2 linked regions of the Homo sapiens genome follow. The protein of the gene in region 1 purifies or fractionates together with the protein of each later gene. This does not show direct contact. Each region holds a gene or a part of one and is shown on either strand. Other genes may lie near its edges. The genes, in order: MEFV and SPICE1.

Region 1 (2,883 bases):
GTTGACTCATTAGACCACAGTCCCCAACATGGCCTGGGTTCCTGGGAGGAACGGGATTATACCCAACATAGCATGCAGGGCCCTAAGCAGGGGGTTCCTTGTCTTTCCTTGTTGTCAGGACAGTGTAATTTAGCCCCTCTTAATGCTAATGCTCAGGATTTTTTTCCCTATCTGATTTTTCTCCGTAGTTCCGGAGCTGATTGGCGCTCAGGCACATGCTGGTAAGTGCCCAGATCAAGGCAAGTGGCCCTGGCCTGCTGGATCCCTGTGCTCTCCCCTACCACGTTCCAGAAGAACTACCCTGTCCCTGTTTCCTGCAGGTGGGGAGAACCCTGTAGGGATGTTGCCCATGGACCCCTACCTAGGTATTCAAATTTTCTTTGCAGTTAATGTGATTCTGGATGCAGAAACCGCTTACCCCAACCTCATCTTCTCTGATGATCTGAAGAGTGTTAGACTTGGAAACAAGTGGGAGAGGCTGCCTGATGGCCCGCAAAGATTTGACAGCTGTATCATTGTTCTGGGCTCTCCGAGTTTCCTCTCTGGCCGCCGTTACTGGGAGGTGGAGGTTGGAGACAAGACAGCATGGATCCTGGGAGCCTGCAAGACATCCATAAGCAGGAAAGGGAACATGACTCTGTCGCCAGAGAATGGCTACTGGGTGGTGATAATGATGAAGGAAAATGAGTACCAGGCGTCCAGCGTTCCCCCGACCCGCCTGCTAATAAAGGAGCCTCCCAAGCGTGTGGGCATCTTCGTGGACTACAGAGTTGGAAGCATCTCCTTTTACAATGTGACAGCCAGATCCCACATCTATACATTCGCCAGCTGCTCTTTCTCTGGGCCCCTTCAACCTATCTTCAGCCCTGGGACACGTGATGGAGGGAAGAACACAGCTCCTCTGACTATCTGTCCAGTGGGTGGTCAGGGGCCTGACTGAATGCCCAACACTGCATCTCTCTTCCTGCTTCTGGCCTTGTATCTTGCATTCACACTCAATAGTCACGGAATGCCGACTAGGTGCTAGCTGCTATGGGAAATGCAAAAATAACAAAATAGTTACTGTGCCCACGGAGCCTACCCGATTATAGCAGAGGTAAGTTAGGAACGAACATGTTAGTCAATCCGGGTGAAGACATGTACTGATGACACACCATGGATTTCAGAGGAGGAAGTACGGAGTCGTTGCATAATCCGCCCCTGGTGGGTGGCACTCTCAGGTGCTCCTGAACAGAAGATTTGGCCCTCATTTTCCCTCAGAACCCCACGGCAAGGATATATGTCCCCTTGTTCTCTCTGCTTCTGTCTTGAGGATATGGGAAGCCTAGAGAAACGCAAGCAGACTGGATTGGGATAGAAGTATTTGTGTACCTGGATTAATGAACTATGATTTTTTTTTTTTTTTTTTGAGACCAAATCTTGCTCTGTGGCCCAGGCTGGAGTGCAGTGGCACGATCTCAGCTCACTGCAACCTCCACCTCCCAGGTTCAAGCGATTCTCCTGCCTCAGCCTCCTGAGCAGCTGGGATTACAGGTGCGTGCCACCACACCAGGCTGGTTTTCTTGTATTTTTAGTAGAGACGGGGGTTTCACCATGTTAGCCAGGCTGGTCTCGAACTCCTGACCTCAGGTGATCCACCCGCCTCAGCCTCCCAAAGTGCTGGGATTACAGGCATGAGCCACTGTGCCCGGCCTATGATTCTTTTTTTTTTTTTTTTTTGAGACAAAGTTTTGCTCTTGTCACCCAGGCTGGAGTGCAGTGGTGCAATCTTGGCTCGCAACCTCCGCCTCCCAGGTTCAAGAGATTCTCCTGCCTCAGCCTCCGAAGTAGCTGGGATTACAGGCGCCCGCCACCATGCCCGGCTAATTTTTTGCATTTTTAGTAGACATGAGGTTTCATCATGTTGGCCAGGCCGGTCTCAAACTCCTGACCTCAGGTGATGCACCCACCTCAGCCTCCCAAAGTGCAGGGATTACAGGCATGAGCCACCATGCCGGGCCATGATTCTTAAGAGAATTGACTGGGCCTCATGAATAAAAAAATTAGAAAATCTGGTCATTTGCATTTGTCACTCAATCACTGTGGAATCCCATTTCCCGACTGCATTTCAGGAAGCAGATGGGACTACTGTATGGAAAAACATTTGGCATGTATTCCAAGTGTCAGATTATTCTGTCTTGGTTTGTATGGGAAAATCTGCGGGTTGTGGAATATTAGGTTCTACTTCACACACATCCCGTGCATTTGTCCTTCATTTAAAGAGATGTAAAGGGGCCGGGCATGGTGACTCACATCTGTAATCTCAGCATTTTGGGAGGCAAAGGCGGGTGGATCGCCTGAGCCCAGGGATTGAGACCAGCTGGGCAATGTGGCGAAAACCCGTCTCTACAAAAAATACAAAAATTAGCCATAGGGATGGGGGTGGGAGGATGGCTTGAGCGCAGGAGATCGAGGCTGCAGCAGTGAACTGAGACTGCACTACGGCAATCCAGCCTGGGCAACAGAGTGAGTCCCTGTCTCCAAAAAGTGGATGTAAGAAGAAAAAAATCAAATGAAGATTAAATTCCAAACTCCTATGCCAACTCCTCTGTCTTCACTACTAGAGTGTAGATTAGACTCAGATACTCCATGGCTATGATGAGAGCAGGTAAACTTGCTGGGCTTTCCTCCACGAGTTTTATTCTATAAGAGTAATCCACATCCCAGGACAGTTCACATGACCTACGGCTTAGCTGTTCCCTGCGGTGGGTCATGTCTTATTCCCGATTCTCCCTTGTTATAAGCTTTTCATGAATATCTTTGTGTATATTTTCCACCACCTCACCATATACATATTTTTTTCTCCTGTGTTATTCCTAAAATGGTTCCTGAATGTGAAATATC
Region 2 (3,829 bases), on another chromosome or scaffold:
CCTCATACTCTACTCTTGCCACACTGATCTCCTTGATGACTCTAAGCTCACCAGTCACACTCCCACCGCAAGACCTTCGCACTTGCTTTTCCTCTGCCCAGACTGCTCTTCTCTCAGCTACCCACATGCTCACTCCTCGCCTCTTCCAGGTCTTGGCTCAAATGTCACTTCCTCAGACAGGCATGGCCCATCTCATTTGTAACTGCATCCTACCCCATCCTATGCATTTCCTGTGCCTTTATGTGCTTTATTTTTCTTCAAAGTACATATCACCATCTAACTTACTATACTTCAACTTTTTGTTTTTAGGATTTATTTAGAATGTAAGCTCCATGAGGGCAAAGTTTTCTATATTTTGTTCACTATTCTATTTCCTGTACCTAGAACAGTACCAGGCCCACAGCAGGTGTTCAACAAAGATTTGTTAAGTAAATTAGTACATTTTAAAACTGCACATCTTCCCAGGAGAATTAAACATATGTTCTGCAAAAATATGTATATGAATGTTCATAGCAGCATTATTCATAACAGACAAAATGTAAAAATAACCCAAATGTTCATTAACTAATGAAAGGATAAATAAAATATGGTATATCCATACAATGGAATATTATTGGGCAATACAAAGGAATGAAGTACTGATACATGCTAAACATAAATTAACCTTAAACATTATACTAAGTGAAAGAAAAGCACATATTACATTATTCCATTTCTATGTAATATCTATATTAGGCAAATACACAAACACAAAAAGTAGATTAGTGACTGCCAGGAGCTGGCAAGAAGAGAGAATGAAGAGTGACTTCTAAAGGGTACAGGATGGCCTGGCGCGGTGGCTCATGCCTGTAATCCCAACACTTTGGGAGGCCAAGTCAGGCAGATCACGAGGTCAGGAGATCGAGACCATCCTGGCTAACACGGTGAAACCTCATCTCTGCTAAAAATACAAACAATTAGCCAGGCGTAGTGGCAGGCGCCTGTAGTCCCAGCTACTCAGGAGGCTAGGACAGGAGAATGGCGTGAACACGAGAGGCAGAGCTTGCAGTGAGCTGAGATCATGCCACTGCACTCCAGCCTGGGGGACAGAGTGGGACTCCGTCTCAAAAAAAAAAAGAAAAAGGGTACAGGATTTCTCTCTGGAGTGAGGAAAATGTTCTGGATTTAGATAACAGTGCTGGCATACAACTTCAAACATACTAAAAACACTGATTTGTACATTTTAAAAGGGTGGAGGACTTAATGGTATGTGAACTATATTATCAAATTTGTGTGTGGTTTCAGTTTTTTGTTGTTTTTTTTTTTTTTTTTAGAGACAGGGTCTCACTCTGTCACCTAGGGTGGAGTGTAATGGCAAAATCATAGCTCACTGCAGCCTCAAACTCCTAGGCTCAAGTGATCCTCCTGCCTCAGCCTCCCAAGCAGCTAGGACTACAGGCATATGCTACCATGCCCAGCTAATATTTTTATTTTTTGTAGAGACAGGTCTCACTCTGTTACCCAGGCTGATCTCAAACTCCTGGCCTCAAGTGATCTTCCCACCTTGGCACCCAAAATGTGGGGATTAAAGGTGTGAGCCACTGCGCCTCGCCCTATATTATCAATTTTAAAAAATTATACATCTACATCTAATGTCCATTAACACAAACATAATTTATCTTCTAACTATTACTTGTCTAGTCTCTTCTGGCTGATAAATAAAAGTAATAATAACCATCATATGAGAACAAAAAAGATGAATAAAATAGACTGTGTACACTCAAGAAGCATACAGTCTCAGTAACAAGTACACATATAAGTATAAAACAATTTGATAAATGCAATAATACCAATATCCAGACAGTATCAGAAGTGCACAAAGAAGCAAGGTGCAGTGGCTCATGCCTGTAATCCCAGCACTTTCGAGGGCCAAGGCGGGCGAATAGCTTGAGCCCTGGAGTTCGAGACCAGCCTGGGCAACATGGTGAAACCCCATCTCTACAAAACATAAAAAGTTAGCTGGGTATGGTGGTGTGCACCTGTAGTCCCAGCGACTTGGGAGGCTAAGGTGGGAGGATCACTTGAGCCCAGGAGGTCCAGGCTGCAATGAACTCATGCCACTGCACTCCATCCTGGGTGACAGAGTGAGACACCATCTCAAAAAAAAAAAAAAAAGTTCACAAAGGAAGAATGCTCAATGCAGCATGGAAGCAATAGGTTTTCCAGAAGAGAATGGTGTAAGTCTTTTAAAAAAGAAAAGGAGCAATTAGTCAAGCAGCAAAGAGGACTTTATGTAACAAATATGAAGATACTGTGAACAACTGTAAATGGCTCTGATATAATTGCAAAAGGACTCCTCAAAGGCTACCTTCTGCTGTTTTGAAATTAAAAGTGGCTGTCATAACACTCATTTCACATTTTGGATTAACTACTGTAACACTTGTAGTTATAATTTAAATGTAGACTCTGTCTTCCCACTAAATAGTAAGTCTCTTGAAGACAGGAAGACAGTCCATATACTACTTCCAAGCTTCTACTATAGTACTTCCATGTAATAAATGTTCAATAATACCTGCCACTGATGATAAAAATGACTGATAAGTAATCACATCGATACAGTTAAACCAAAAGCAACTCTAAGAGAATCCAGTACATGTTTAAAGATGTTTTATACCACTGAACACATAAAAATTGGGATCTCATCTGAGTACCTGTGTAGCAGCGTTTTCTTCTCTAAGACGAAGAATTTCAGCTGTCAGAGCATCAATGAGCTCTCGATGATCACCTAATACTTGTTCCAGTTGTTGCCTTGTCTCTACTTCTTTACGTAGCTGGATCTCACTCTACAAAAAAATATCAAATAAACTTCCACCAATAGCATCACATGTTGAAAACTAAAAGTTTGCACTCAAAGCTGGCAAAGAAGATATTTACAAAGAAGCATATATTATGTGACAGTAATGATGAAGAGTTTTATTAAAAGGTTTATTATATTTAATTAAAGAAAATGTGCTTCTTTATCCTCTTCCCTTCTTTAAATAGAATAAAATGAACTAAATGCTATATAAAATTAAGTAACTACATTTTTTGTAAAAAGAAAGTAGAGGGATATACATATACATATTATTTGAATATACACTGACCATCTCTAGAAAGATACACTGGTATCTGGAATGATAGTTGGCTATAAATAAGCAAACAGGCTAGCTGGAAGTTAGTCATGAGAGTTAGTACAATCTGCTGTTATCTTTGAATTTCATAATATGTGACTATATTGCCAATTCAAAAATTAAGCTTGTTAAAATATAATTTAAAGTAAATGACTACAACTTTAAATGGTTTAACTTTGTAAAACAAGTGATTAGCTTAAAAGTACACGCTTCTGGTCGGGCGTGGTGGCTCACACCTGTAATCCCAGCACATTGGGAGGCCAAGGCAGGCAGATTACAAGGTCAAGAGATCGAGACCATCCTGGCCAACATGGTGAATGAAACCCCGTCTCTACTAAAAATACGAAAATTAACTGGGCGTGGTGGTGCACGCCTGTAGTCCCAGATACTCAAGAGGCTGAGGCAGAAGAATCTCTTGAACCCAGGAGGCAGAGGTTGCAGTGAGCCAAGATCATGCCACTGCACTCCAGCCTAGCAACAGAGCGAGACTCTGTCTCAAAAAAAAAAAAAAAAGTACATGCTTCTAAGCCTGCAATACTCTCCAAGAGCCAAAAGTATACTCCTGAAGATTCCTGAGTTAAGGGTGAAAGAATGTTAAGGTTTTAATAGGTCTGACAATACAATGAATCTGTCATTAAAAAGTTAATTTTAGGGTCAGGTGCAGAGGCTCACGCCTATAA

Evidence for each region.
Region 2: the proteins of MEFV (region 1) and SPICE1 purify together in Homo sapiens (affinity purification with mass spectrometry; one large-scale study listed by BioGRID and IntAct). This does not show direct contact.

The regions. Positions count from the first base shown.
Region 1 is NC_000016.10:3,241,198-3,244,080, reverse strand, and holds the end of MEFV (pyrin), read left to right. Parts: intron 1-13; coding exon of another isoform or gene 14-188; coding exon 189-221; intron 222-386; coding exon 387-940; 3' UTR 941-2,054; downstream 2,055-2,883. UniProt on the Homo sapiens protein: Involved in the regulation of innate immunity and the inflammatory response in response to IFNG/IFN-gamma.
Region 2 is NC_000003.12:113,462,963-113,466,791, forward strand, and holds part of SPICE1 (spindle and centriole-associated protein 1), read right to left. Parts: intron 2,823-3,829; coding exon 2,691-2,822; intron 1-2,690.